7 linked regions of the Homo sapiens genome follow. The protein of the gene in region 2 purifies or fractionates together with the protein of the main gene of each other region. This does not show direct contact. Each region holds a gene or a part of one and is shown on either strand. Other genes may lie near its edges. The genes, in order: HEATR6, CST8, KHK, STK39, METRNL, ADGRG6 and HS6ST2.

The links.
Region 1: the proteins of CST8 (region 2) and HEATR6 purify together in Homo sapiens (affinity purification with mass spectrometry; one large-scale study listed by BioGRID and IntAct). This does not show direct contact.
Region 3: the proteins of CST8 (region 2) and KHK purify together in Homo sapiens (affinity purification with mass spectrometry; one large-scale study listed by BioGRID and IntAct). This does not show direct contact.
Region 4: the proteins of CST8 (region 2) and STK39 purify together in Homo sapiens (affinity purification with mass spectrometry; one large-scale study listed by BioGRID and IntAct). This does not show direct contact.
Region 5: the proteins of CST8 (region 2) and METRNL purify together in Homo sapiens (affinity purification with mass spectrometry; one large-scale study listed by BioGRID and IntAct). This does not show direct contact.
Region 6: the proteins of CST8 (region 2) and ADGRG6 purify together in Homo sapiens (affinity purification with mass spectrometry; one large-scale study listed by BioGRID and IntAct). This does not show direct contact.
Region 7: the proteins of CST8 (region 2) and HS6ST2 purify together in Homo sapiens (affinity purification with mass spectrometry; one large-scale study listed by BioGRID and IntAct). This does not show direct contact.

Annotation. Positions count from the first base shown.
Region 1 is NC_000017.11:60,040,744-60,045,093, reverse strand, and holds the end of HEATR6 (HEAT repeat-containing protein 6), read left to right. Parts: intron 1-959; coding exon 960-1,531; 3' UTR 1,532-4,086; downstream 4,087-4,350. UniProt on the Homo sapiens protein: Amplification-dependent oncogene.
Region 2 is NC_000020.11:23,489,347-23,494,272, reverse strand, and holds the start of CST8 (cystatin-8 precursor), read right to left. Parts: upstream 3,157-4,926; 5' UTR 2,931-3,156; exon of another isoform or gene 2,864-2,930; intron 2,749-2,863; 5' UTR 2,606-2,748; coding exon 2,375-2,605; intron 1,316-2,374; coding exon 1,202-1,315; intron 1-1,201. UniProt on the Homo sapiens protein: Performs a specialized role during sperm development and maturation.
Region 3 is NC_000002.12:27,098,365-27,101,460, reverse strand, and holds the end of KHK (ketohexokinase), read right to left. Parts: intron 2,266-3,096; coding exon 2,177-2,265; intron 2,109-2,176; exon of another isoform or gene 2,042-2,108; coding exon 1,884-2,041; exon of another isoform or gene 1,797-1,883; coding exon 1,711-1,796; 3' UTR 1,678-1,710; coding exon of another isoform or gene 1,621-1,677; 3' UTR 1,026-1,620; coding exon of another isoform or gene 919-1,025; 3' UTR 699-918; downstream 1-698. Other genes in the region: CGREF1 (cell growth regulator with EF hand domain protein 1 isoform a precursor), read left to right, coding at 1-187. UniProt on the Homo sapiens protein: Catalyzes the phosphorylation of the ketose sugar fructose to fructose-1-phosphate.
Region 4 is NC_000002.12:168,142,639-168,146,988, forward strand, and holds part of STK39 (STE20/SPS1-related proline-alanine-rich protein kinase), read right to left. Parts: intron 1-4,350. UniProt on the Homo sapiens protein: Effector serine/threonine-protein kinase component of the WNK-SPAK/OSR1 kinase cascade, which is involved in various processes, such as ion transport, response to hypertonic stress and blood pressure.
Region 5 is NC_000017.11:83,091,766-83,095,622, reverse strand, and holds the end of METRNL (meteorin-like protein isoform 1 precursor), read right to left. Parts: intron 2,457-3,857; coding exon 2,397-2,456; intron 1,368-2,396; coding exon 1,048-1,367; 3' UTR 501-1,047; downstream 1-500. UniProt on the Homo sapiens protein: Hormone induced following exercise or cold exposure that promotes energy expenditure. Induced either in the skeletal muscle after exercise or in adipose tissue following cold exposure and is present in the circulation.
Region 6 is NC_000006.12:142,395,765-142,400,114, forward strand, and holds part of ADGRG6 (adhesion G-protein coupled receptor G6 isoform beta 1 precursor), read left to right. Parts: intron 1-1,848; coding exon 1,849-1,991; intron 1,992-4,350. UniProt on the Homo sapiens protein: Adhesion G-protein coupled receptor (aGPCR) for steroid hormones, such as progesterone and 17alpha-hydroxyprogesterone (17OHP). Involved in many biological processes, such as myelination, sprouting angiogenesis, placenta, ear and cartilage development.
Region 7 is NC_000023.11:132,955,436-132,960,293, forward strand, and holds the start of HS6ST2 (heparan-sulfate 6-O-sulfotransferase 2), read right to left. Parts: upstream 3,195-4,858; 5' UTR 3,168-3,194; coding exon 2,740-3,167; exon of another isoform or gene 2,000-2,739; intron 1,892-1,999; coding exon 1,373-1,891; intron 1-1,372. UniProt on the Homo sapiens protein: 6-O-sulfation enzyme which catalyzes the transfer of sulfate from 3'-phosphoadenosine 5'-phosphosulfate (PAPS) to position 6 of the N-sulfoglucosamine residue (GlcNS) of heparan sulfate.

The sequences.
Region 1 (4,350 bases), on a different chromosome or scaffold from region 2:
CCAGCCTTCCTGTATGGCCCTTGCCCTCAGCCTACTAGAGAGAGAAGTTTACCTGCATGACTTGGAGGGAAAGGGAAGCTCCAAAGAGGCAGGAAGTTTGAGAACTAGAAAGCATCCAGTAGCAGAGCTATCAAGAGCCACATAAGAAAAGGGAGCTAGAAACTGATAAAGGACTCTGACGGGTCGGATTGTGAGTGTCTCATAGCTCTAGCAGTGGCCCATTGTCAATGGCACTGGCATCCACCAAATGGAAAGGGCCTGCTTGCCGGTCTTCAGAGGCAACAGAGAAGCCAGGAAGGGCTGGGAGAGTTAAGAGAAGCTGCATTCTACTCTGTCACCCATCTTGAGTAAGGACACCCCAAAGTGGAGTGGGTAGCAGTAGCTCTGGTAAGGAGGAAAGCAGGCTGATTTCCTAGGGCCTACAGGTGTGGAGAAAAGATAGAAATCTGGGCATCTTATTCTTGAAATTGTAAGTTTTCTTTTTCTTTGCAATAAAATGCATGACTGGCTATGGCCAGAGCAGTGTCTGGATGCTGTTGCAGGTGAGCATGCAGTGTGTGGCTTGCACACAGCTCAGAAGTGCCCAGCTGAGAGGATAGGTGGGGTTGCAGTTCAGTCCACGCTCTGCCCACAAAGCCATACCCCAACGGGACAGAATCCTCCCAGAGAAGAAGCCTTTTTCTGAGTCACCAAAGGCTTTATATTGGGTAGCAGAGGCTCTAAGCGTGTGGCAGGCTGAGGTAGGGAAAGAGGGAGGTTTGGGGATTGGCACCTGGCCACTTACCTAGGATCCTACAGTCAGTCACCACCCTTGTCTTACAGGATGATTGTGAGAATGAAGTGAACACATAAAATGAGTGTCTTGAGCACTAGTGTTTAAGCTTCCTTCCACCCCTCTCCCTCTCACCCCACCTAGTTCTAAGCCTGCATTTGTTTTAGTGACTGTGGATTCTTTCTAGGGACAGCCCCATGGACCTCCCAGGCCTACAATGCCCTGACATCGGTCGTGACATCATGCAAGAACTTCAAAGTGCGCATCAGATCTGCAGCTGCCCTTTCCGTCCCGGGGAAGAGAGAGCAGTACGGGTCTGTTGACCAGTATGCTCGGATCTGGAATGCATTGGTCACCGCTTTACAGAAGAGTGAAGACACCATAGACTTTTTGGAATTCAAGTACTGTGTCAGCCTACGGACCCAAATCTGCCAGGCACTGATTCACCTCTTGAGCTTGGCCAGTGCCTCGGACCTCCCTTGTATGAAAGAAACCCTTGAACTGAGTGGGAATATGGTCCAGTCCTATATTCTACAGTTTTTAAAATCAGGAGCAGAGGGAGATGACACTGGAGCACCCCACAGCCCACAGGAAAGAGACCAGATGGTCAGAATGGCCCTTAAACACATGGGCAGCATCCAGGCACCAACTGGAGACACAGCCAGAAGGGCCATCATGGGCTTTTTAGAAGAGATCCTGGCCGTTTGTTTTGACTCATCTGGATCACAAGGGGCACTCCCAGGGTTAACAAATCAGTGAAGATCCCACCATACTTTCTAGATGTCGAAGGCGGCAGTAGGAAGACCTGAGCTTGAGCATAAGATCTGTGGGATTTCATCTTAGGGGCAGAAACAATCCGTTCACTATTTATTTAGAATGACTTAGCAGCCATTTAAATTTTCACAGAGGGCTCAACCACCTTTGGAGTGACTCCATAGCACTGGCCATGGTCAGGGTTGTTGGAACATCTGACCTGTGCATCCAGGAGCCGAGGAGTCAGGTTGTAATACAGGCCAAGCAGACGGGCTTTGAGGGCATTTAGTCTCAGAAAAAAAAAATGTAGAAGGATTTCGGAATTAGAATTTTGTGTATTGTATCTGTAGTTTTGTAATAAACTAACGAAAAATAGTGTGTCCACAATCTCCTGTTGTTACCAAGTTGTATTTCTAGCAAGCTGCAAGCAGAGCTGCAGTTCAGCCAGTTTGTCCTGGCCCAGCTGCACAGGATGCGAGGATGCTGACAGTGCCTCACAGCCGCACAGGACCGAGGATGCTGACGGTGCCTCACAGCCACACAGGACGCGAGGATGCTGACGGTGCCTCACAGCCACACAGGACGCGAGGATGCTGACAGTGCCTCACAGCCACACAGGACGCGAGGATGCTGACGGTGCCTCACAGCCGCACAGGACCGAGGATGCTGACGGTGCCTCACAGCCACACAGGACGCGAGGATGCTGACGGTGCCTCACAGCCGCACAGGACCGAGGATGCTGACGGTGCCTCACAGCCACACAGGACGCGAGGATGCTGACGGTGCCTCACAGCCACACAGGACGCGAGGATGCTGACGGTGCCTCACAGCCGCACAGGACGCGAGGATGCTGACGGTGCCTCACAGCCACACAGGACGCGAGGATGCTGACAGTGCCTCACAGCCGCACAGGACGCGAGGATGCTGACAGTGCCTCACAGCCGCACAGGACGCGAGGATGCTGACAGTGCCTCACAGCCGCACAGGACGCGAGGATGCTGACGGTGCCTCACAGCCGCACAGGACGCGAGGATGCTGACAGTGCCTCACAGCCGCACAGGACGCGAGGATGCTGACAGTGCCTCACAGCCGCACAGGACGCGAGGATGCTGACAGTGCCTCACAGCCGCACAGGACGCGAGGATGCTGACAGTGCCTCACAGCCGCACAGGACGCGAGGATGCTGACAGTGCCTCACAGCCACACAGGACGCAAGGATGCTGACGGTGCCTCACAGCTGATGAGCTGCTGCTCCGAGCTTCTGGAGTGCCCGTGTTCCCCTGACCACCTTCCCTGCCACACCTCCCCACAATCCAATAACCAGAGTTAACTCCCAGCAAGCAGGGCCTTCTAACCTAGGCTACAACATTGACTTCTACCTACATTTCCTGATGCTCTTTAGGAGAATGTGATCCCACACACTAAATATATGGTTGTTTTGCCACCTTTTAATTTGTGCCTTTAAGAAAAGATCATTTGGTTAGTTGGTTACAAAGAGGGGTTTCCAATTATATTTTGATAATGCCCCACAAGTTATGAAGGTAACTTCTACTGAATATATATATTTAAATTTTGCATTTTTCTACTGAGCACCAACGATTTATTGGAATTGATTTCAATTAGGAATTTAGGGATATATAAGAACCAATTACAGTTGTCCATACTTATCTTTGATGTGGGACAATTAAGAAGTTACAAAAAATGGGTGTTGGTGATATTTTATCATGGTTATTTAGCTTAAAATACACGTGTAAAGGCAGGTGTCTTCCATTTTTCTCCTTTGCCTTTTAGCTGCTGTTTTCCTGCCTCTGACATGTTGGCTGCTCAGAAACTGCTCTCTGGGCAGTGATTGGGGAACAGGGTATTCAAGTTCACTAAAGGCTCAATTTTCCATTGATAGAATATCAGTGTCCACAGAATTAAGACTGCAAGCACAGCAAAGACACCCATATTGAATGTTCCCTTAAATTGCTTTTATTTGGAGACAATTCTGAACATGAAGTGTTATAGAGGGCCCAGGAAACTAAGTTGAGCCCACCTGACCCTGTGATGAATCTTGGAACTTCCGTCTCTTGAATACATTCTTAGTAGTAGCTTCTTGGCATTTTCAAAAAAGGAAAAAAAAAATATGGCATAGACAGCTTATTACTGTGATTCTTTGAGTTTTCTCAGGTGAGTTTTTTGATAAAATATTTGTGAAGTGGCCTCATGGTTTCATTTGATGATTCACTCTTATCCTTTCCTTATCTTGAATAAAATCCCATTCATTTTCTTTTTAAAACTTCAGCTTCTGTAAAGGTTTCCAGATCCTGATGTGGATGTTAATGTTCATGTGCAGGAAAACAATGAAGGCATAGCACCTCTAGAAACTTCAGAAGGCAGTGGTACCTGCTGTGTCCCAACAGTATGCTGATTCTCTTCTCTGCAGCATTGTGGGTGTACATACACTAAAGGACAGAAGCTCCTCATATGCCTGGGCACGTGCCTCCATAAAGCTGCTGTGGGGAAAGGAAGCCACTGACAATAAAGACAACTTAAGCTGATGAAAATCAGCACACAGCTCCACTGGTTCAGATTTCTAATGCAGAATGCCAGATTCTAAATTATCTTTTGACACTTAAAAATTGGGAGGAAGAGTCATCCAGGCACAGATGGCTAGGGCCCTTGTCCATTAGACTACAGCATTATGAGACGTTGCTTATCTTACTCTTTGAACCTTTTCTGTGACGAGTAAAAAACAAACAAACAAACAAAACATTAATTCCTATCCCCTTCCAGAACTCAAGAAAAGCGCCTCTTCTGAGGTTGGGTGCCATGGCTCATAT
Region 2 (4,926 bases):
AGCAAAAACTTTTCTACAATCCCTAAAAGCCCGGGAGAAAATATAAATTTAAAGCAACCATATTCCTAATACCAGTAAAAGATAAAACAAGCATAAAAGATCAGATAGCATTCGGACAAGCTCACTGCTGAAATGTTTGTCCTGACGGGTCATTTATTGTGAGCTGGAAATGATAGGGTTTGTTTCATTTGAGCATACAGAGGCAGTTTTCATCAAACATAATGGCAGGGCAGTTCATAAATGTACCTGCAATTTCCTGTGCCATGGCAGTGCATAAAGCAGTGGTTCTCAAAATGATCCTAAGGCCAGCAGCAGCAGCAGCAGTAGCACCACTCAGGAACTCATTAAGAATGCAAATTCTTAGATCCCATTTCCTGAATTGGAAACTCTGCCGGTGGAACCCGGTCATCAGGGTTTGTCAATACCTCCAAGTGATTGTGATGCCTGCTCACATTGGAGAACCACCAATGTAAAGACAGGGACAGTGATGCACCTGTTGGGCAAACCTGCAGAATGCTCAGGCCTTCATCTGTCTGGGACCAAGTACTGGCCTATGAGCTGCTCTGAGATAAAAAATACAGGCTTGAAGCCAAAAGCCCCTGGGCCAAGTCCTCCTTTTGTTGGGAGTCTGTGGGTTTGCCCCAACCTTCCTGGAAACCTGGACTGACCCCAGCAAAAATCAACTGTAAACCCAGGAGGGTGGGGCCACCCTCTGGCTTAGTCATTGCTTAATCTCCAGCACCCAGAATAGACCTGGTGCAAAGCACGTAGCACCTGGTGCTCAGTAATTTTCTATGAGTGGATGAGTGAATGAATGAAGTTCCTTTTGTGTCTGTATGGGGATGAGTGACCATGGGCCCAGCAATAGTGGGTGGCTTGTCTGGACCCAAGAGGACAGGCTTTTGGTGATTATGTGTTGTCCAGTGTGCCTGCATCAAAAGGCCAGAAGTCAATGGAGCCCTTGAGATAAGAGTGGTCTTGACAACATCCTTTCTGCAGGATGAAGGATGAGAAAGAAGCTCAGAGGGTTCCACCACGTTCCGTGGCCCTGGATCTTCTGCTATAAAGGCCACAGGGTTGGCTATCTGGGGCTAAACACTGGGAGCCACCCAGACCTCAAAGAGAAGGTCTGCGTGCCTCAGCTTTCTCTCTTGGGTTCAGAGCTGCCTAGGCCGTCACAGATGAGTGGTTCATCACCTACCCTTTTCAGCTTGGAGTTTTCTTGAATGGCGCAGATTTCATTAGTGCTTAAAGGCTTTCTGCAATCGCTGCGGGCAATTTCTACATCAATAAGGTATTCCAGAAGATTTGTGACCTGTTGGTTAGCAATTATGCAATTTTATTCAAAAGAGTTGTACTTTTTTAAAGTTTTGACAAAAAAAAAAAATTACTCTTACTCTCGTCCTTTCCTCTTTCCTTCCTCCCTCACCCCCAGACAGAGCTTTAGCGGAAGGCTAAGATGCCCACTGCCTGGAGCCCTGTGTACAACAAGATCAGTCAGGACTCCATAGGCTCCTGGAGCTGGACACTTGAGTAAAGACTCCTCTCCAGTTTGTCACCTCCTTGAAAGCAAGGCCTTCTCATTCCATTTCCTGTCCCCAAGCCCAGGGCATGCTGCATGCTCAGTGAGGACTGAGAGGTGAAAGGTGGGCTCTTCAGAACCATCAGCTCTCCTGGGCCTGAGATGCTCAGGTTCACACAGGCCTGACCAGGGGACAGCCCCCTCAGCCACATTAGGCCCCAGTCCCTCAGATTCCTGTGAAACCTCCCATCCTCTGGGGTTTCCCCACCCAAAGCCCCTCCCACCAGCTCAGCACACAGTCCATGAGGACCCATGCAGGCATGAGTTTGCCTGTCTTGTTCTCTGCTGAGTCTTTAGTGAGTAGAACAGCAGTAGGTTTATAGCAGGACATTAGTATTTGTTGAACTCATTAGTGACTGAATGCAATCAAGGCTACTTGTGATGTCCATTTAAATCTGTTTTCATCTGGCATTAAAGGATTACAGCAGGAGATGAAGGAGTGTCTGCTAGTTGGGTCCAGGTTCACCTGGACTCACCTTTATCAGATCTTTTCTCATGGCTAGCATTCTATCTGTCTCCCAACCTTAGCAAATACATGAACATTTGATTTGCAGTTTGGGGTTTAAATGAGTTAATCTATGCGAAGGACTTAGAACAAAAGCGCAAGCGTTTGTAGAAAGTGCTCTGTGTGTTCACTGCCTTATTGATGCTGTGGAAGTGTCTAGGCTCTTAAGCATTCACATATTTAGGATTTTTGCATAGTGATATTTTTCTTATATGCCCACTCTTTCAGTCTGGCTTCAACTGTGCCACCATATGCAAATGTCCACCTATATGGAAAGACACCTTTACCTGAAGCTGGGCTTGCAGTGTCTTGACCACCAGGAAGACATACTTGTCCTCGCTCTCTTTGTTGTATTCTTGCATGGCAAACCACAGACACTGCTTCACGTTGGCATTTGAGGCATTGACGGGTTTTAATTTCCTCAGCACCCCTGTCTCATTCTTTTTTGGGTCTTTCCTGGCCACCAGGGCCAGGGGAATGGTGAGGAGGATCAGGGAGAGCCACCGGCACCTGGGCATGGTCCCTTGGGCAAGAGGCAAAGTCGACTCTCCTCCTCGTCGTCTCAGGGCTGGAGCTGTGGGCAGGATGGGGTGGCCGCAGCTGCTGCTGTGGGTTCAAGAATCTTCGAGCCACACACTGCCTCCTGTTAGCGTCAGCCCAGCTGGATTCAAGACAGGCCATTAGGGTCACTCTTTGGGGTTTGTCCTCTCTTTCTCCATGGAAACCCACCCAGGAATGCCAGTTAAGGAGTCTCTCTACCAGCCTCCCCTCCTTACCCTGAGAGCAATCTGTGTGTCTAGGGAGAGTTCCTCTCCCCTTCGGCCCCAGTGTGTCTATGCCTACCCCTGTGAGCGTCACTCTTGTTATCTGCTTCTCAGTCCTGTATGATGTGATCATGAAAACTGTGGCTGCCCCAGAGGCCTTGTGGCCTCAGCCCTTGGTGGACTTTCAGCCTGCTGTGCCTGCAGCTCCTTCTTACTCCCTGTGGAGCTGGGAGCTGACCTGACCAGTGGTTCTCCTAGGTCTTCAGCACTCTTAGTTCATGCCTGTGGCCCAGTCAAGGGTCTCTGTGGGTCCTGGTCTGCGGTCTCTCTTGCCCCTCTGAGTCCACGCCCTGCAGGGAGGTTACGCTTTGTGATGTAATTCAGCACCTGTGTCTTGTCCCAGTGAGGACATCTCCCACTTGCCAGCCTCCGGCCTTTGGTCTAAACAGCTCTCACAGGGGCACAGAGAGCAAGCAAATGCCTCCTGCTGTGCCCTCAGAGTCAGGGGCCTGCAATGGTTAATACTGAGTGTCAACTTGATTTGATCGAAGGACACCAAGTATTGATCCTGGGTGTGTCTGTGAGGGTGTTTCCAAAAGAGATTAACATTTGAGTCAGTGGGCTGGGGAAGGCAGATCCACCTTTAATCTGGTGGGCACAATCTAATCAGCTGCCAGCGAATATAAAGCAGGCAGAAAAACGTGAAAAGGAGAGATGGTCCTAGCCTCCTAGTCTACATCTGTCTCCCATGCTAGATGCCTCCTGCCCTCGAACATCAGACTCCAAGTTCTTCAGTTTTGGGACTCTCAGACTGGCTCCCCTTGCTCCTCAGTTTGGCAGACAGCCTGTTGTGGGCCCTTGTGATCATGTAAGTTAATACTTAATAAACTCCCTTTTATATACATATTATTTATATATATAATTTATGTATATTTTATATATATATAATTTATATGTATATTTTATATATATACAATTTATATATATATTTTATATATATAATTTATATATAATTTTTATATATAAATTATATATATTTTATATATAATTTATATATATAAATTATATATATTTTATATATAATTTATATATATAAATTATATATATTTTATATATATAAATTATATATATTTTATATATATATAATTAATATATATATAATTTATATATATATTATATATATAATTAATATATATATAATTTATATATATATTATATATAATTAATATATATATAATTTATATATATATTATATATAATTAATATATATATAATTTATATATATATTATATATATAATTAATATATATATAATTTATATATATATTATATATATAATTAATATATATATAATTTATATATATATTTTATATATATATAAAGGGGAGTTTATTAAGTATTAACTTTATATATATACACAACCATATATATCCTATTAGTTCTGTCCCTTTAAAAGAACCCTGACTAATACAGGGCCCCTCTGGCATCTTCTGCCCACCTGTGCCAATGACTCTGGCTTCCTGAATGCCTGGCCTCTGAACTCCCTTGGCTTGGGCCAACAGTAACCCCCTGCCCTGTCCTGCCAGGGTAAGGGTCACGTGGCCCACTCTGATGCCCAGGCCTGGCCCTTAGTGGGAGGAGGGGGGCACGCACCTGTTAAGCTCTCAAAGCTTCTGCTTTTCTGTGAAAATCCCAAATCAGTGTCCAGAAAGTTCCTGGTGAGGCAGAGAGGTGAGCATTCTTCCTAGGCTGCAAAGATCAATGGGTTCTATGAGCAAGGGCAACGTACAGAAAACACATATGGGGCAGGAATCTGTCAGGCAGGTGGCAAAGCATTGCAGACTACAAATGCATTATGCTGTATTTAAACTTTCTCCCTATGACTAGATTCTTCAGTTTCTCATTTTCAGCTGTTACAAACAGTATTGCAGTGAACAATCCCTTTCCAATATCTTCATGATGTTACACAAGTGTTTTTGTAAAATAAAAGACTAGATGTAAAATTGATGCAAAGCTTTACGCAAATTTAAATTTATTATTTATTGCCAAAATGTTCGTCACTTACTAATTATATAT
Region 3 (3,096 bases), on a different chromosome or scaffold from region 2:
GGAAGCTGGGGGCCAGGCAGAGGCTGAAGGAGATGCCCCCGGGCCCAGAGGGGAAGCTGGGGGCCAGGCAGAGGCCAGGGAGAATGGAGAGGAGGCCAAGGAACTTCCAGGGGAAACACTGGAGTCTAAGAACACCCAAAATGACTTTGAGGTGCACATTGTTCAAGTGGAGAATGATGAGATCTAGATCTTGAAGATACAGGTACCCCACGAAGTCTCAGTGCCAGAACATAAGCCCTGAAGTGGGCAGGGGAAATGTACGCTGGGACAAGGACCATCTCTGTGCCCCCTGCCTGGTCCCAGTAGGTATCAGGTCTTTCTGTGCAGCTCAGGGAGACCCTAAGTTAAGGGGCAGATTACCAATAAAGAACTGAATGAATTCATCCCCCCGGCCACCTCTCTACCCGTCCAGCCTGCCCAGACCCTCTCAGAGGAACGGGGTTGGGGACCGAAAGGACAGGGATGCCGCCTGCCCAGTGTTTCTGGGCCTCACGGTGCTCCGGCAGCAGAGCGCATGGTGCTAGCCATGGCCGGCTGCAGAGGACCCAGTGAGGAAAGCTCAGTCTATCCCTGGGCCCCAAACCCTCACCGGTTCCCCCTCACCTGGTGTTCAGACACCCCATGCTCTCCTGCAGCTCAGGGCAGGTGACCCCATCCCCAGTAATATTAATCATCACTAGAACTTTTTGAGAGCCTTGTACACATCAGGCATCATGCTGGGCATTTTATATATGATTTTATCCTCACAATAATTCTGTAGCCAAGCAGAATTGGTTCCATTTGACAGATGAAGAAATTGAGGCAGATTGCGTTAAGTGCTGTACCCTAAGGTGATATGCAGCTAATTAAATGGCAGATTTTAATCCAGGTCTGTCTCACTCTAAAGCCCTTTACATTATATGCTCTTTACATTATAAGGCCTTACCCACCCTATATTGGAGTTGGCCCCAATTCCAATATGTGTTCCAGATCGGACCTCCCTGAGGACAGCAACACTCTGTATCCTGGGTCACATTTGTGGCTGAGGCACGCCCTTAATTCCAAGGTGGGCTCCAAGGGTGAGACTTTCAGGCTCTGGGGCAGTCAGCGGGAGGAGGTATTTCTGGACAATGAAGACCCCATCAAATCACAGGCTGGTGGGCAGGGCAGAGGAGGCGCACCCCTGCCCCCCACTGGCCTGTCAGTTCAGCTCAGCGGTGTGGACTCCCAGCTTCTGAGCTGTGGGAATAGAGTCTGCACAACGCAGGGCCCCGAAGAGCTCTCACGGTTTCTTTGGCAGGTTCACTGGGTGTGGGGCACCGAGTGTCCTCCCCAGCCAGGGCAGAGCTGGTGGCAAGCCCAGGGCACTTCTCGCTGCTCTAGCCCAGGCAGCCCCTCCTCTGGGCCTGGGCGGAGAGGTTAATTTGGGGAATGGACACAAAGAGGGAGGATCGAAGAGTCAGAGCCTCAGGAATGCCCAGCCAGAGCAGTTCAGACATTGAGAGGAGAAGCTGGCTCTGAGGAAGATTTATTTGCTCTGAGGCTCTGCATCCCCCAGCCATCCCCCCAGAGCCTCTCCCTGTGGGGAACACAGGACACAGGCAGAGTCCTCCCCACAGCTTGCATCTGTCCCCTGAACAGGGCAACCTGGACGCCAGGCTGGATGGAGGGGAGAAGGCGATGCAGCCGCAATGGTAGTCTCCATGGTGTGTGAGGAGCCGGCACCTGCTCTCACACGATGCCATCAAAGCCCTGCAGGCCACACTTCTTGCCGGCCACCTGGCACCCGAATCTCAGTGCTTCCTGCACGCTCCTCCCTGGAGGAGGGGCAAGTAGCTAGGTCAGCCAGGTGTTTGGGGCAGGGACAGGTCCCAGTCCTTTTCCCCTCCTGCTGCCATACTCACCCTGGGAGAGGCTGAAGATGACGGAGGCATTGAAGGTGTCTCCAGCTCCCAGTGTATCCACCACGCGGGGTGGCGGGAAAGCATCCGAGTGGAGCAATTTGCCATCAGGGCCCAGGGCGTCGGCGCCCTCCTCAGCCCAGGCACAGACAAGCACAGCCCTGCAAGACGGCTCCACTCAGCTGGGTGTTAGCCCACCCCGTCCCCCCAGCCATCCTCCCAGCTCCAGGGCGGACTCCTGGAGTCCAGGCTCATCCTGTACCTTCTAAAGCCCCTTCCTGGCTTCCCCGGCTCACCCTTTCCTCACACGACCATACAAGCCCCTCAAGGCTTCCTCTGCTGACTGGAACCCCAAGTGCTTGGCCACATCTTTGCTGACAAACACCTGTGGGCAGTGGAAGAGAAGCTGGTGGTCACTTCTAACTCGTCATTCACCAACAGCAGCCTAGCGTTGCCCCCATTACAACACGACTCCCCCAACATGTCCACATAGATCCCCAACGTAGCATCTCACTGTCCCACGGGAACGTGGTTTTCTTTTTTCTTTATTTTTTGTGAAGATGGTCTCCCTGAGGCTGGTCTTGAACTCCTGGCCCCATATGATCTTCCTGCCTCAGCCTCCCAAAATTTCTGGGATTACAGGTGTGAGTCACTGCACCTGGCCAGAAGCATATTTTTATCGATGCTTATATATAATAGAATACAGCCTTGTAAATTGTAAAACAAAAGGCCTGGTCCGTTTGTTCTCTGATCAATGGATTGAAAACCCACAGAAAGCCTTGAGCGCCACCTTGGGGTGGAATCTACCACCGCCATGCTGGCTCCCTGGAGCAGTTTTGCTGGTTTTTCCCACAACTATGTCCTCTAGGTATGGTTTCTTCATCTGGAAAACAAAGAGGCTCCCTCAACACTACCTACACTTTAGAATCTCCAGAGAAAGTTTTGGTAAAAACAAAAAACAAAACACCGAAGCCTTGGCTCTACCCCTGCCAATCAAAAACAAGATGGTGGGGCTCAGGCACTGCAATCCTCCTGCCTCAGCCTCCTGAGTAGCTGGGACTATGGGTGCACACCACCATGCCAGGAATTTTTTTTTTTTTTTTTTGTATAGAGACAGGGTCTTGCAATCTTGAATGACTGGCTGAAGTGATCCTCCTGCATTGGCCTCCCAAGGTGCTGGGATTACAGGTATGAGTCACTGCTCTTGGCCTAATTT
Region 4 (4,350 bases), on a different chromosome or scaffold from region 2:
GTAGCCATTTATTATTGACAATACCCTTTCAATATATCTGTAATGATACATACATTCAGAGCCTCCACTTTGAACACTCACTTTAAAGTCATAAACAGATGGCTAAATGTCTTTAAAACTCAGAACAAAAATTTCAGGAGCAGAAAACAACAATCCTAATATCTACTCCCTCTATGACTACAGAAGAAATATACAATTTGCTCCTATGTACGGCTGATGTGTATACAGATTATATGTACTCAGTAACAGAACATTTTGAGCAAAGTACATAGTGTGCTTATGTTATATACACAAAAAATTGGTATATTATATTGAGATAGCTTGCATATGACAGTTAGAACAAGGTGGCAGAACTGTAACAGTGAAAAGCTGTCCTTGTTTCCTAAGGGGTACATCTATACAGCCAAAGGGAATGCAGCCAGATTCACTTGGGTACAAAACCACAGACATTTCTCTAGAAACACAGAATCAAAGGCTACACATAAAGTTAGCCAGTCCATCTCCCTGCCTCCAGGAATAACTGGAGGATATGGGTAAATGCTGCTTTAAGAAAAACAACAACAACAACAAATAATGCTGTCATCCTAATAACAAAAAGGGTCTAAGACCTTCTGAATCCATCCACTTCTTTGCTCCTCCACAGCCACTGCCTTCATTTAATCCACCACTACTTCTTGCTAAGATTTCTGCAGCAGCCTCCTAAGTTCCCATCTCCCTTCTTTCCCCAGATCCAGGCTCCAGCAACCAGGCCTTTCTATGTCACAGGCCTGAGCCCTCCTTAAAAGACTTTCAGGACAGGAGCGGTGGCTCATGCCTGTAACCCCAGCACTTTGGGAGGCCAATGCAAGTGGATCACGAGGTCAGGAGTTCAAGACCATCCAGGCCAACATGGTGAAACCCCATCTCTACTAAAAAAATACAAAAAATCAGCTGGGCCTGGTGGCACGCGCCTGTAGTCCCAGCAACTCTGGAGGCTGAGGCGGGGGAATCGCTTGAACCCAGGAGGCGGAGGTTGCAGTGAGCTGAGATCATGCCACTCCACTCTGGCCTGGCAAGAGAGCAAGACTTTGTCTCAAAAAAAAAAAAAAGTCTTTCAAGGCTCCCTGTCCCCTCAGGAAAAAGTCAAAATCCTTCAGCATAACACGTAAACCTATATCACTACTCTCAGATTCAGACAGTAAGCTCCAGCCTACTGAATGACTTACTTTTTATTCCCTGATCCCATCACCTCCTTGGCCTCACCAGCATTGCCCTTGCACATGATGCTTTGTCGTCTAGGTACATCAACCCTCCATGCTGAACAGGTGCACCAGCAGAAGGCTTTCTGCATGACCTTGTTAATGACACAGCATCTCCGGCACCCTGGCTCTTGGTGAGTAATTTGATGTGCATTCATCACCTTTGCGTAATTTGATTTCAGTAACATTGGTCATGGTCTAGTTTTGATGTGTGAATGCTACTAAGCCTTGAGGAGGATCTGCAGGTATGGTTATCTGATTTGGAGAGTGGCAGATCTACTAGGAAACATTACAGGACTAATGGGCAAGATCTGAGTGTTAACAGTGATTAGGCCTAAGGCTAGACTATTACCCAACTGTATGACTCCCGAAAGGGACTTAAACTTTCTGGGCCTTATTGGGCTTCTTATTTAGGCCTATTTTTATTTATTTATTTTATTTTTTTGAAACAGAGTCTCGCTCTGTCGCCCAAGGTGGAACATAGTGGCATGATCATGGCTCACTGCAGCCTCAACCTCCCATGCTCAAGCGATCCTCCTACCTCAGCCTCCCAAGCAGCTATGACTACAGGCATGTGCTACCATGCCCATCTAATTTATTTTTATTTTTTGTAGATATGGGGTCTCTCTATGTTGCCCAAGGTGTTCTCAAACTGTTGAGCTCAAGCGATCCTCCTGTCTCAGCCTCCCAACGTGCTGGAATTATAAGCATGAGCCACCATGCCGAGCCTCAATTTCTATATTACTTTCATATTTATAAGACTCATTTTTTTTTTTACCATGTATGACTATTCTTTATAACAACTGTTAGGTAGATCGATAAGCTACTCACTGCCTTTTCATAAGCAAGGCAAGCAGGCTGAGGGGATAAGCATAAATATTTTACAGTGGCAGAGATAAAATAGGAGAAGACATGTTTCTTGACTTCAACAATATTTGTCGGGCATGATAGTTCATTAGGTGGGTGCGGTGGCATGCAACTGTAATTTCAGCTACTCAGGAGGATGAAATGGGAGAATCGCTTGAGCCCAGGAGGTCGAGGACGCAGTAAGCCATGATCATGCCACTGCACTCCAGTCTAGGCAACAGAGTGAGCCCGTCTCAGAAAAAAAAAAAAAAGAATATTCCCACCTAAGTAGGATAAGATGTATAAAATCAAATACTATATTGTCTGTGTAGAAGCAGAGGAGCTATAACCATAATGGTCATAGAAGACTATCTCCAAAGTGGGTCTTGGAGCCAGCCTTCAAGATGAGGTGAAGACTTGGATGAGCAAGTCCAACAGGAAACAAATTCCAGACAAAGAAACGGCATGAGCAAAGCACAAGTGTGGAGCCAAGAAGAAAAACTGACAGCTGCAAGGGTCAAAAACTCAAAACACCTACAGCAGCCAGGCAGGAATACAATGGAGAAAAGAGGGTCCTGAAAAACAACAGCTACAGTCTCAGTGACAAGGGCCCTTGATGCTCAGTCTCTGTGACGGGAGACTTTAGGAGTGCTGGGCCCTGTGTGAAGCCCTGGAGCCCACTGTCAGCACCCTCCCACCAAGGTCCAAGGCAGGCCCCTGCTGCTTGGCACCAGAAGAAAGTTGCCATAGAGAAATGTAGACCCAGGATTGCTGGATATCCCAGTTTTCCCAAAAAAGCCAAACATTGGAATCTTTATGAAAAAGCTCCCTTTCTTACTGTAGTTGGCAACAAATTCATTTTTAAAAAAATAGAAAAGCGATTTCTCCTGCCTAATTTAGTCCGCAAAACTAAAGTCTGCCAACTGTGTGGTTATGATGTCTAAAATGTACCTAAAATACTTCAACATATGCCATGTGATATTATGTTTGTGATACCACAACCTAGGTGGTCAGCTGGCATTCTAACCAAGAATGTCCAGTGCTGGGGGGGTTCTGATAGCACTCGACTCAGGATGCCAGAGGCAGCTGCTGGAAGTATTTCTATTATCCAAATCTAAATATAGATGAGCATAAGCCAGGTGACTGATTGTCCAAAGGGGTTATTATTAGGGAAAACAGTGACCTGTTGAGAGGTATGATACATGTTAGAAATGGGCTTTCACTGCTGAAAATAAAGGTTCTTAGCACCAGAGAGTGGCTAAAATATTTTAGATATACTCCTTACTCTTGCATGAACAGAATAAAACAATCCAGTCCAGTCCAACTGTAGACTATACCCTAGCCAGTTCTGTGGATGGTTGGATTCCTAGTAGCAAGCATAAGGATAAAGCAAAAACTGCATCTGGAATCTTGGCATGTCTGCCTCTAATGAATTTTTCATTCACCTATGAGGAAAAAGAACTGGGATTTCCTTGAGCTTACAGAACAAATTGTGAGAACTGTTTAGGGGCTTGCTTGCTAATGAAGGGCAAAATTTGGTCTGAAAGTTGATTTCTCTAAAACCTGTAAGGGAAGCTGTGGGTGAGTACCCAAGCCTCACCTACCTCAAACTTCTACAGTATCTGCTATTCTCTTTGAAAAGGAACCTGAGTTGTGCATGAACAACATTGACTCTCTTTGATCAGAGAGTAACGGGATCAATGTTTGAGAGTTCAGAGCTTCCTAAAATGTAGCTACAATGAGTTAAAAGAGACACTGATGCCTAAGTGGCTGGGTGGGAGTCTGGAGCAATAGGAGCCCCCATAGCTTCAGGGGACCCTGAGAGTTCTTTCCTACAAGCAGCTTCTTTTCCACAGAGGCCATTATTTTTAAAAGCAGGGAAGTACTGGGTGAGATTGTTGAGGGGCCCAACCAACCACAGAGTCTGAGCACCAGGTAAGGGAATTTGTACCTGATTCAATTAACAGCTGTTGTTCCCTCTCTCGTTAGAGAAGAACAACATTTGGAAAAAGTGACCATGCAGGGATGTTCAAGAAAGGAAAAAGACTAGAAGCAGAGAAGACCACAACCATAGCCCAGGAGCAAAATCAACAGAGCCTGTATATGAATAGAGAGGTTGGAAATGGAGAGGATTAGACCAATTCTTAAGAAAATACGATGATTTAGTAGATATTGGAATTAAGAAAAGAGGAAGGAATAAAAAGATTAGATGACTTGCCAAGGAACACACAGCAAGTTATCGAAGGTCTGAATAAAATTCACAGTC
Region 5 (3,857 bases), on a different chromosome or scaffold from region 2:
GAAGGGTCGCCCCCGGCTGAGGAGAAGACGAAGGGTCGCCCCCGGCTGAGGAGAAGACGAAGGGTCCTCCCTGGAACCCCTGGAGGCTGAGGAGAAGATGAAGCGTTCTCCCCTGGAGCCCTGGAGGGAGAGGCTCTGCCCACACCGTGACTTTGGATTGTGGCCTCAGGAACTCAGAGAACGAGGTTGTTTCAGCCCCGCAGTCGGTGGTGATTTGTTCTGGTAGCCGCATCCTTTGGGGACATGGGGTCACCAACCTGGGTTCAGACCAGCTCCTGGGCGTCTAGAGACTAGCTGTGGGCCCCTGCACTGTGGGCAGGCTGGGGCCACAGGGCAGGACCTGCATTAATGGAAATGCAGCAGCAGGCGCTGAGGGACAGTCGCCGGGCGGAGCAAGCGTGTCTGCCGAGGCAGGGTGGCGCCCTGGGGTACGTCCAGCGAGGCCCTGAACACGGGCCGTGGGCACCGGACCTGGCGAAAGACAGACTCCGGCTTCTGGCTGGTCGGATCCTCGTCTTTATTCTCGGGAACGGAAACAACCGGCGGCCTGAAAAGGACCAAAGCTCATCCTTTAAAAATAAAATGAAAATAAAAAACGTATTATTTGGCTCCAAAACTTCCGTCATGAGAATAACAACTCTGAATGGCACCTTTTCACACATCCACTGTGCCCAACGGCCAGTGCTTCACCCAACCGCAGGCCAGATGCCGTGACTCCTAACGTCTTTAGAGAACAGTATCAGACGGCACACCAAGGCGTTTTAAGACACGGGAATTTGTTTCCTATGGACATTTCTTTTTTACCAAAAAAAAATATAATAACTTAGTTTGCATTTTACAGCATTTCCAATCGGCCAGGGCATCCTTGGCTGGAAGCTCATGGGGTTGAGTGTGGCGAGAACGTCCACAGCTTCGGTACCAGGGTCAGGCCTGGGCCCAGGGCATGCGGCTCCCAGCGCGCGGCCCTCACCGCACGGCCCCACCAGGACCGCAGCGCCCACCGCAGCCTGTGACTCATCAGGAGAGGAAGGGCAGCGGCCCACGGAGTCAGTCCGTGCCAACCTCACAAGGGTTCAGCCCCCTCTCCTGGGCATCCCTGTACATCCTCTGGAAGTCCTTGAAGCGTGGGGCACAGCCGAGCCGCGCCTCCCCGAAGTGCATGTGGCCAGTGAAGAGGAAGTCGCCATGCCCCGGCCGCACGCCACACTCCAGCAGCGTCCTGACGCGCCCCTGCCAGTGGCCGTCACCCTCGGGCACCGGCTCGAAGACCCTGCTTTTCTGCCGATAGAGTCTGCTCACGCGCAGGTGGATGGCTGAGTCCTGCCGCTCAGGCTCGTGGGTAACTTGCTGGATGGAGCCTCGAACGGCTGTGCGGGGAAGGAGATGGGGACAGGGAGTGAGCAAAGGCAAGCACACAGCAAGACCACCGCACCTCCCCCTGCCCCCGCATCGATGGGCACTGGAACGGGCAGCTGACCCCCGACTCTGCCATCTAGCGTGGAAATTCCCAGAGAAAAGTACAATGTAACAGCAGAAAGCTGCCAAGGGGTGTCCCAGATACTTAGACATCGTCAGAGAACAGGTGCCCTTTCTACCAAGGGCCAGACCTGTTAAATGGGAAAACAGAACAAACAAGTCCAGCTGATACACAGGGTGCCCCTGCAGTTCTGTGTCCTGATCAGACAGACCCGGTGCAGCTCACAGGAGAGGGTGGGCATGGGGACAGCCTTCGCGCCACACTTGGAGACCCCTGCCCAGCCCCAACTCCATGCCAGGGGCCGGGAAAGCAGTGAGAAGGGGCCTGTCCTTGAGCTTGGAGGTGGGGTGCAGAGCCGGGGCCTGCAGGACATGGCTTCCACGGCACCACACGACGGGAGGCCAAACCTTTCCCACAGGGCGTCTGTGCAAACGCCACAAGCAAAGGGGCTGGAGCCCTGGGACCCCAAAGCTCCTCCTGCAGAGCCGCAGAGCCGCCGGGGGCCTCAGGCCTGGAACAGCGTGAACTCTGGTGGGGGGCAAGGAGTGTCCAACGCCAAGGATGCTCTGGGCTGCTGATAAAATGCTGTTTACAAAGCACTTCAGCAAGAAGAGCTGCTGGGAGACAGTGGACTTCAAGAGTCCCCTCGAAGAGCAGTGATCTCATTTACAAAATGGGAAAATGTTTGACAGTCACCAAAACAACCCCCAGCTCCCTCCAAGTGTGGGCGGTGGCGTCCCTGTCCCCAGGGCTGGTGGAGGGCCGAGCCCAGGGCTTCCACAGCGTGTGCCCCTCCAGGAGGGTCCACGCAGCACCGGAAGGCTGTCCTGGGCCCTGAAGAGGGACTCCTGGGCCCAAACAGCTCCATGTGGCAGAAACCAGGAGCACAGGAGGTAGAAGCTGCCGAGGAGACACTCACCGAAGTCGCTGGTGCAGACGGCTAGGAGCACCTCGGTGTCACTGCAGGGACGGCACGGCGCTGGAGAAGAAAGGCAGAGTCAGGAAGCAGCCTGGACGGGACAGGCTCTGGAACGCCGCCCACCACCGTCAAAGGATCCTCACACTCAGCAAAGCCAAGTCAGGGAGGGTGTCCACGTCAAGGCACCTTTGTGACCAACGCCACTTCAAATGTGAGTTGGCGGCACGTGCTGGAGGGGCCGGCAGCACGGGAGACAGAAAACACAACCTCGACCACGACGGGGTCTCACCCAGGGGACCCCTCGGCCCCACCTGGACCAAAGGCACCTGCACCTCGGCCATGATGGGCACATGTCCGAGAGCAAGACCCTCAGTCCGGCCATGTCCCAGGGCCTTCGTGGGGAGGGGTCTTTGTGCTCTTTCCCCACTTATCTCCTCAGTGCGGCTGAGCCGGACTCACTGAGAAATCGCTCACGTGCCTGTTGCAAATGCAAAGCCCACTGGGGCTGAACCGAACCCACCAGACAAGAGTCACCCCCAACCCACCTCCACAGCCCACGGCGCCGGGAGCACCCCCACCTCCCAGAGTCGCCCCCAACCCACCTCCACAGCCCACGGCGCCGGGAGCACCCCCACCTCCCAGAGTCGCCCCCAACCCACCTCCACAGCCCACGGCGCCAGGAGCACCCCCACCTCCCAGAGTCGCCCCCAACCCACCTCCACGGCCCACGGCGCCGGGACCACCCTCATTTCCCAGCTTCCTCGAAGGGCAGACACTCCCCACAGCTCTGCTGCCCACTTCCCTGGGTCGCGACGGCAGCGGCACCCAAAAGGAGGATCCCATCCCGCGGGACCCCCCATGTGGCTGGAAGGGCCAGCGAGGCCAAGATTCCAGGAAGGGGATCCCTAAGCAGGCAGCGACGCGTCCACCTGCCACCGGCGTGGGGCCTCACCCAGCAGGGCAGTGAGTTCCAGTCAGGGCCATCGGCCCGGCCCCTTCCCCGGATGCCACCTGGCCGCGGGATGAGGTGCATGCCCCAAATGGCTTTCAAGCCAAGCCCTGCTCACAGAACCCCCTCTGAAGCCCCTGAACCCTGCGGGGCCTGGCCTCCCCCAGAGAATGCGGAAAGCACGGAGGCTTCTCAGAATGAGCTCCCGTACCGGCCAAACCAGGCTTTCCCAACAACCTTCTCCCCTCGGCCCAGCCCTCGCCCTGCCCTTCGCCCCAGTTTCTTAGATGGGCGGGCCACTGTGAAACAGAAACCTCTGCACGCCCCGCATTCCTACACTCGGGACGGACTTGGAAAACATGGTTTTATTATTTGCTCTTATTGCAGGTTTCAAGGCCTCACCTGTTCTGAGCCTCTAGGTTTTGGCCCCAAGTCTCCTAACGCAATAGAAACTTTGAGACGTGAAATCTCAATGGCACTGGTTTCGCCGGTGCCATTTCACGTTCTGAAGG
Region 6 (4,350 bases), on a different chromosome or scaffold from region 2:
TTGGTGAGGCTTTATAGTCTCAGTTTTTGTCAAAACCACAGTCTACTACTTTTACATACATTGTTTTTTAAAAAAACTTTTCCTTTCAATTTGATTGTATCACTTAACACAGACCATAGCTTCAGATAATGCTGTCATACTCTATTGCCTAGACAGACAGGAAACCAAAGCCACAGAGAGGTTTTTTTCAAATAAAGAATGGCTGATGGTAACAACAGATAGAATGTAACTTTGTAGAACCATAAAATAGTTTCAGTTTTCAGGATGAGAGAGGAAAACACACAGATAAGACCTGTGAAAATGTATGGCTATTCCTGACTTGTTGGGTTTGGGTATTCAATATCACCCACAATACTTTGGGCTAATTATGTTCTCAGTATTCAAGACAAGTAAAAGGTCACATTCCCAGCTGTAAGTTCTCACCAACTGGAGTGGCGAAGCTTGTCTTTAAACAATGACTTAATCCAGGGATACTTTTTCATGGGCCATTTTAAAAATTGTTAAGCTATCATAGTCACATCTATGTTCACAGCTATCATTATATTCATTATGTTTGCCTCATCCTGAAATATGGCTTGTATGCGAATGGTAAGCAGTAGATCATTTTAGAGAGAGCTTTTCAGAGTTAATTATGAGAAGAGTAGAGCACCTATTCCTTGAAATTAGCACAGATATTTAGGAAAGAAAACTTGAGCTATTCTTTAATTTCACCTAGCCTTGAATAGCAAATATTTCACATATTCCTTCTTATTTTTTAACACCACAAATAAATTACTACTATAATACTTATTAATATTCATAGTTTCATAAATAAAATGTCACTGCCTCTCCACTAGACATTCCATAACTAGTTTAAAAACAATACTACCACTTTGTCTTTGGCGTGAAGACAGTAACTGATCTCAATAATATAACGTCTTATCTTATTCATTTCTCCTCTGAATATGAAGAAGAAACAATTTTTTTGTGAATCCAGAGCTTTCACATATAAGCAAAAGAAATTCTCCTCTACCTGACAAAATAATGTTACTTACTTTTACCTCAGTGTTAAATTAATAGTTTTGATTTCTGCTTTTGACTATAGCTGTGATTGTAGTGGAACAGAAAATTATATTACTTTAAATTGTAGAACCAAAAGTTTTTAACAGGGCTTTGGGGATACATTTCTTTGCTTCCCATAGAGGTATTTCCTTTTTAAAGACCTTCAAAGTCAACCATTCTATAACCTTCTTAAGTAATATGCTGACCAATCACAGAGTCGATTTTAAGTATTTATTTTGTGAAACTTTTTACCATAAAAAGTATTTGCAAATGCCTCATGGAGATAGAAAATCATTTGTTGCTATTCTGAAGAAATTATATCACATTCATGAATAGTAACACTTTTATAGTGTTAGTAAATATAAATAGTTAATTTCTAATAGTTAGAAATGGTAATTTCAAAAGATAAATGGTCAGTTGAAATCATAGTTTTATTAAAAAAAATTAATTTGGGGCCACAAAGAAAAAATGTAGAATTAACCACAGGAATGCTGTTTTCTTGTGTTTATGCTTTAAATGACTATATAATGTATTACTATAAATATTAAATATTAAAATATTTCTGAAAAGAAATGGAGTTATTTGACAGAATTATACAAGCAATAGCCTATAGAATCTATTAATATTGGAATATTTTTAACATTATAATTTACACAGCAGCAGAGAAAGTCTGTGAGCACCTTGGCTAATCTCTTCAGTCTCAACAGGTGATGGTCATCCCTCTACATCCAAATACTCTGTTTCTCCTACCAAATGACAAGCAACCAATGAACAACAACAACAGTTCTATCCGAAATGTTTCCCTAGGTTGGTGCTTTGGGCCCTTCTAGTTTACAATGCTACCAACAATACTAATTTGGAAGGAAAAATCATTCAGCAGAAGCTCCTAAAAAATAATGAGTCCTTGGATGAAGGCTTGAGGCTACATACAGTGAATGTGAGACAACTGGGTAAGTGACTAATTTTTTTATAATATGCATTTTATACAACTGTATATTCAGGTTTACTTGAAACAACAGCAGAAATTTTCTTTATGCGCTATTTGTTTATGTAAGTTTTTTTTCTGATGGTGAAGTTCAGTAACAAATGAATGACATAGCAGAAAAAAAAAATCAGCTCAGTGTCTGTGAATCCAAGGGAATGAAGGAGGTAGATGAAAGTTTATATTTTACTTTAGGAACATATTTTGAAAATACTAACAATATGAACAAAATGCCAGAATAATCTTGATCATCACTGTTGTCAACTTTAGGGAAAAAAAAGAGTGTGTAGATGTGAATGTGGGAACTCTAATGAGATAAATCTTATAGAAGGAGATTTCCTGTTTTAAAACATCTCCTGCTGGGCATGGTGGCTCATGCCTATAATCCCAGCACTTTGGGAGGCCAAGGTGGAGAATAACTTGAGCCCAGGAATTCGAGACTAGCCTGGGCTACACAGGGAGACTGTCTCTACGAAAGATTAAGAAATTAGTTGGGTGTTGTGCTGTGCACCTGTAATCTCAGTTACTAGGCGGGGCTGAGGCAGGAGGATTACCTGAGCTTGGGAGGTCAAGGCTGCAGTGAGCCATGTTCATGCCACTGCACTCCAGCCTGGGCAGCAGAATGAGACCCTGTCTCAAAAAAACAAACAGAAAACGTCTCCTTCTCTCATGTTCCCTGTCTCTATTAGTGATACCACTGTCTTCACAGGACTAGGTCATGAATGTAGGGATTCTGTTGGACCTAAAATCAAGTTTCTCCTGGAGATCGTTCACATCCTAAGCTCTAGCCACACATATGGCACGGCTTGTACTTCCACAAAGAGGCTGTGCTGCTTCCTTTAGATACCCTTTCTATATCTTTGCACACTGTTCTTCTCCACTCCCACCGGCAACCTCATTATCACCTATGTATTTTTAAAGACAGCTCCTAAGTCAGCTCTTCTTTGGAACCTTTTCTGAAATAAAGTATAGACATCACTGCCTTTGAGCCTCTACTTCATGCTGTCCAGATGCCTAGAGCATCATATGCATCAGAAGACCATAGTACTTAGAAGACTAGATATATTTATGTTCACATATATATATATGTATATATTCTGTAAACAATAATCTCTGACTTAAGATCATATTTTCTTTTTTCTTTAACTCTTACTTCCCACATATTTCCAGAACCCAGCACATTCCCTGGAACTGGAACACTTGTTGAATAGACAAATGAATGAGTCTGCATGAGAATATTTTAGGAAATCAAATGTTCACAAATATGGATAACAAAAAGCAATTGTTTTAATGTTATTCTATGATTGCAATTATACTGTGATTAGGTACATTAGTAGAGATCAAAAGAAAAGAAAACTTTGACCCTTCGCCTTCTCTACACTCAGGAGGTTGAATTGAGGGAGGCAAGTGTTCCTCAGCCTTGAAGAGGGCGATTGCGACCAAGGCCATAATCACAGTCTAGTAAAGAGGCAGGCATCTCCACTTCTGTGAGGAGCCACCCATCTCTATTGGGTGGATGTACACCGTTACAAAGAACTCATAGAGATGGATGAATGCAAATAATAATACTAATCATGGTAATAAACCATTTCTGAGTCTCTATGGGAAAATACTTCTTAACAAATGGGGCTTTTTGGAGGGAGGGAGAATGCAAGCTGCTACCCTTTCACGTATAGGAGTCTTCACAAAGAAGGAGTCTGACAAATGGTAGTTTATCTATGACTGGAGAACCCTAGGAGGACCAGCACTGGCTCTGTCCTCATAGGCTGTGAAAGCCCAGCACCACTCTGTCCATATATTTAGACATTTAATTTATACCATTTAATTTAAATTATCCGTTTTATTGTTTTTCTGCAAATGAATCTGTGGATAAGCGCTTCTACCAATGGAAAAATAAAAGGCTAAAACCTAACAGTTTTAAAGTTCACAGTATACATGGGAAAGTTATTTGAATTTTCAGTTGGTGATGACAGTACTTGTTCCCAGAAAACTGATATAACTCACTAATGCTCAGTACTGAAATACAAGAGTTTATTGTTGTTGTTGACGTATTGCTGTTACTTTGATATCCTTTAAAATGTAGAATCTGAATCATTGATGTCATGAGGCTTACTTAGAGAGTCGTCAAACAAAAAGTCAGATGATGTGAGGATAAAGAAGTCTGAGAGTTTGTTGGTTTGCAGGTGACTTCCTGTGTCCCCCTTAGTTAGCTTCCAGGCAGGAGAGGCTATCAGAGCAGCTGGAACATTTTCTATAAAATAGCCACACAACTCAAAGAAGACACTATTGAGGCATCATTTCTAGGCTTTCCCCTTTGAAAAAAATCA
Region 7 (4,858 bases), on a different chromosome or scaffold from region 2:
TGGTAATCTGAAAGTCAGAGGGCTCTAGGGCTCTATTTGCTGCAGTTGGACAGAAAAATCCACACTGGTTGTTGCGTTCTAACAGTCACCTGCAAAGCATCCCCTTGTCCAGGGTACCAAGTGCACCCGGGGGATGGGGATGGGACACAGACATGTCCTTGCCGGCCCAGAGACCCCATCCAGAGGCCTCCAGGCCATGAAACTCACCTTGTGCACCCCCTGGACTCCCTGCTTCAGCCCAGATTTGTTTTAAGGAGACTTGCGAAACAGTAGCCCTGGCTGGACTAACTGCACCCCATAGCACTCACTTCCCCCACCCCACCACCACCCACTTTACAGTACTGCATGACCTCTAGCAACTGGACATCGCGTCTGGAGGGAGGAAAATACCCTTGCTTCTGGCTACAGACTATTAATAAATCAGCTTTTACCGCATCAGCCCAGGCTCACAGAACATGGGCTGGCAGCGCCCCATGCTGGGGCTCAAGCTTTTTAAATATTTTTTGTAAATCAGGAGAGGCTCCTGGTGACTGAACCCCACATGGGGTCCAGGGCACCATCCCAGCCCGCCCTTCGGTCCGCGGGGTGCCCCCCGCCACTCCCAAAGAGCCACGGATGCCTCTCATGCAGCCAGTAGTGATAAGCAAGCCTGGGAACCATGAGCTCTCCTTGGATGTCGGAAAATAGCGACAGAGGGACACCCAGTCGCCCGGGAAGACCAGAGCCAGAGCGGGGAAGGAGCGAGGTGATAAAAGTCCGGCAAGAAGAGAAAAACAGAAAGGGTAAGAGAGAAAAAGAATAAAAGCGAGAGAGGGGAATGGAAAGAAGGAAACAGCGAGCAAACAGGAGCAGACAACATCTAGGACACAAGAGAGAAAGAGGGAGAACAAGGCAAATAGACGAAATAGGGGGGAAAGCGGGGGGAGGGAAGAATGCGGGCGCCGAAAGGAGGAAGAGAGCGCTGAAAGGAGACTTCGGAACCCGGGTGCAGAGTAGAAGAAAGCAGGGATCCAGAGACGCTGCACGGAGAGCGCGGCTCTTTAGGGCTCTCCAGTGCGGAGACTGAGTACGATGCCCCGTCCCAGCGGCCCCGTTCCGGCCGCTCGGCCGCCTCCCCCGCACGCTCTGCCAACCATCACGCAGGCCACCCTGCGGACAGACAGACGGTCAGTCCGGGGCCGGAGCGGAAAGCCTTTCTGTGGCCGCCACAGCGCGGCGAACGTGCGCTACTGGGCGCCCAGCACCTGCCCAGCCGGGGTGCAAACGCCCGGGCGTCAGGGTGCGCGCTAGGTCCCCGGCTTGGGCCAGCCGCGCCTCCCAGCCCTCCGCCCGCCTAGGCCCGGGTCCCGCTCGACTACCGGCGCGCACTCACCTGGACGGTCTCAGCCTGGCGTCGCGCTTGCCGTCCACCACGGAGGGCACACAGCTGGTGAGCTCGGTCCAGTCGGCGTGCAACCCGCAGCTCCAGCCCGTGGAGAACCTGGAGAAGAGCCAGGTTTCCCGCTTACCCGGCCGGTGGCAAGTGCATTTCTTCTGACCCACGCGGCACTCGCACGGCTGCTCCAGCTGGATGTTACGCACCAAGTGGCGGCCGAAAGTGGTGCCCCCGGTCTTCTGGATGTGCAGGAACACGATCAGGTCATCGCCCTTGATGTCGAAGTCTACCTTGCGCAGGAGGTCGCCGCGGGTGAAATTGTAGCGGGGCACGAACCTGGCGGAGCTCTCATCCTCCGAGCGGTACGGGTCCGGCACCGGGGAGCTGAACGCCTGCAGGCGGAGGAGCTGGCATTCTGTGCCGGGGCACACGTATTGGAGGACGATCACGGCAAATAGGAAGAGCATCACCAAAGCTAGCAGCAGCTTGTTGGATTTCTCATCCATGTTCCCGACGCTGGGGGAAACCCAAGCTCGTTACGTCAATCCCGCAGCTCAGCCCGCGCTCGTCGTGCCCCCGCACCGCCCCCTTCCCCTGGAGCCGCTGCTGCGCCCCTCTCCCCCTCCCCTCCGCACCGAGTACTCCACGGCGGCGGCGGCTGCGGCGGCGGCTCCCTTCCCCGCTTCCTTCCTTCCCGGCAGGCTCAGCGCTGTGGCTTCTGCGGCACACACACACCCCCACCCCGACTCCTTCCCGCGGGCCGTTCGCCCCCTCCCCCCGCCAGAGCTCTCCGGAGCTCCCCGGAGCCCCTCCACGGGGTTTAGCCCCAGTGGGACCCCTCCGGGCCCAGTCGCCCCACTCCTCAACTCACGCCCCCAGTCCGGGCCCCCGCGTGTCTCGCTCCACTCTCGGTGGCTCCCGCTCCCATCCCCATCCCGCTTCGTCCGCCGGACTCTCCGGGCTCTTCTGCCCCTATCCTCTTTGGAGCGCACACCTCTGTCCGGGTTTCTCCCCGCATGCCCCGAAGCCCTCCTTTTGCCGGCGCCCGCGCCCGCTTGCCCACCCGGTAGGCGGCCTCGAGGGAGCTCGGAGCCGGGGGCTCAGAGTTACCCTGGGGGAATGAGCCGGCCGGCAGCCCGACTTGCTATCGGAGACGCTGCGCTGCCGGTGCCCGCGGAACAGTAGCGACGGAGCCGCGGCGTGGGCAAATGCGCGCCGCACCCCTCCGGAGACCCTAGCCGGGCCACCAATGGCCAGCTGGAACTTTACGCCCTTCTCTACCCCCCGCGGCTGCCTTCCCTCCCCGTACAGCACCTTCGCGCCCTGGCCTGGGAGCGCGAACCCCGCTTTCACCTAGAACGTACCTGGCCATGGGGCCGAAAATCTTGGAGAAGATCGCACCGAGCACGTGCTTCAGCGAGTGGCCCAGGGCGGCCAGGCCCCGAGTGAGCAGGGCCCGGCAGAGGGAGCCCAGGTCCCAGCGTCGCCTGAGGACGTGCATCCGCCTGCGGCGGCCCCGGGACAGCAGCGCGAAAAGCGGGGCGCACGCGGCTCCCGCCAGGGAAGAAGACGCCTTTCGGGGCTTGTCCAGGAGCGGCCGGGTGTGGAATCCGTGAGACACACCCCTAGGAGGGCCCGCGCGAACTGAGGCGGCGACCGACCCGGGCCGGCTCGCTGCCAATTCGGCCTCTACTCTGGAATGCCGGCGGGGACAGGTGGTGCGGACGGGCGCTCCTCGCTCCGGTTGCCGCGGCGGCTCGAACTCCCGGACTGCACACGCAGGCAGTGCCATTCCCCCCTTCAGGCAACTCAGGGTACTAAGGATCACGAGCGAGCTTGAATTTATATAATAATGCCTCACGCCTAAGAGCTCGAGCCACTTCACAAGCAGAGAACCTGGGTTTTCTCTTTTCTTGGAGTACGGAGGTCACTCCGCTTAGCGCATCACTCCACTTTGGCTCGTAATTTCAACCTCTCCTAAAATAGCAAAGGCGCAAATTGGAGCTTTTCCGTCTCTCTTTGCCAATTTCCATTCTCCAGCGGAAGCGGGGGCATTTTCTGAAAAGGTAAGTCAGCATGATAAAAAGACAGCAGGACCAAAAAGCATTACAGAATGAGAATCTGACCTTTTTTAGAGCACAGACTGTCTTCTTGCTGAATCCTGTGTACCAAACCCTGTGCCTGCAGGAGGGCTTGACTCATAAAAGGTTTGTTGAATGAATGGATACATAACTAAAAACTCCATCAGAGTGAGACCGTCTAATCCAAGGTAATGTGACACATGAGGAAACTGAGGCCCAGAGAGGGGTAGGGATGTGCCCAAGGTCACACAGCAGAGCCCCAGGGTTTGAACCCAAGAAACCCAGCACCATCCACCTATTTCCTGATACTAACACCACCTTCTCTAATAAATAGGCACAGATCTTCCTCAAGCTCCAGTGTCCGAAAGGCTCTTTTCTGCTGCTGGACCAGGAATGCAGGGTTTAACAGGGAAAGAATGGATGTTCCTTCAGGAAAAGGACCCTGGGAACTCAGGAGTCAGTCTGTCCCCATCTGATTGATCAAAGGGGCTTGCTGTACATCAGGACACTGGTGTTTCCGTGACTGAGTGTGCAACTCCCTCCAGTCCCACTGCTACAGAAGGGGCACCGGTTGGCAGCAGTGTTTCTGAGCAGTGCTGTTGGCACTGGGGCCACTGAGTGGGAGAATGCAGACCACGAGCTGAGTCCTGGGGTGGGGGCATGTCCCTCCTGGAGACAGGCTCTCCCAGTATCTCCCTTGCTGAGCTCTGCTCCATCCGTTTCCTGTTCTATCTATGCCATGAAGCGGCAAGCCTAAGAATAGTCCAGAAGTCCTGGGAAATCTGTCCCTGGGCAGCACTGGGATAATCACTTGCCCCTCCTGAGCCTCAGTTTTCTTGTCTGTAAGATAGGACCAATTATGTCCCCTGTTTTGACCAACTGAGTCACCGTGGGGATGAAATGTAGAAACCTTTAGGCCACTCCAAATGTGAGGCTGTGTTTACCTGTTGCTCTAAGCTCAATGTGCCAACTGCGTCACAGGCCAAATAAGGAACAGGCCGTTCTCAGGCAATTCTGTGGCTGTGCACCCTGTCTTTACCACCCCCTAGAATTCCCAGCCCTGGCTAGACTTCTACGTGCCCCCAAACCTACTGGGGACCGTGAGGGACCCTTTGTCCAGCTGCAGACATAAGGGATAGTGGATTTTTTGGGAATCCTGAATTTCTAGCACTCCAGGCATCTCCTGTCCTGAGGTTCCAGGAACACTCTGAAAACCCAATGAACTTGTGCGAAGAAGCCAGATGCAGTAACTTACAAGGTTGACCTCTCAGCTTCCCCAAGAGCTCCCCTGGTGCCCAGGCTGGTAGTCCTAGGCCTGCTCCCCCTGAGGGCAGCTTAGGGTGTGAGCCAGGGTAGTGGGAAGCTATGGGGGTGGCCCCGGAGCTCTGCTTGCCAGCTGCCC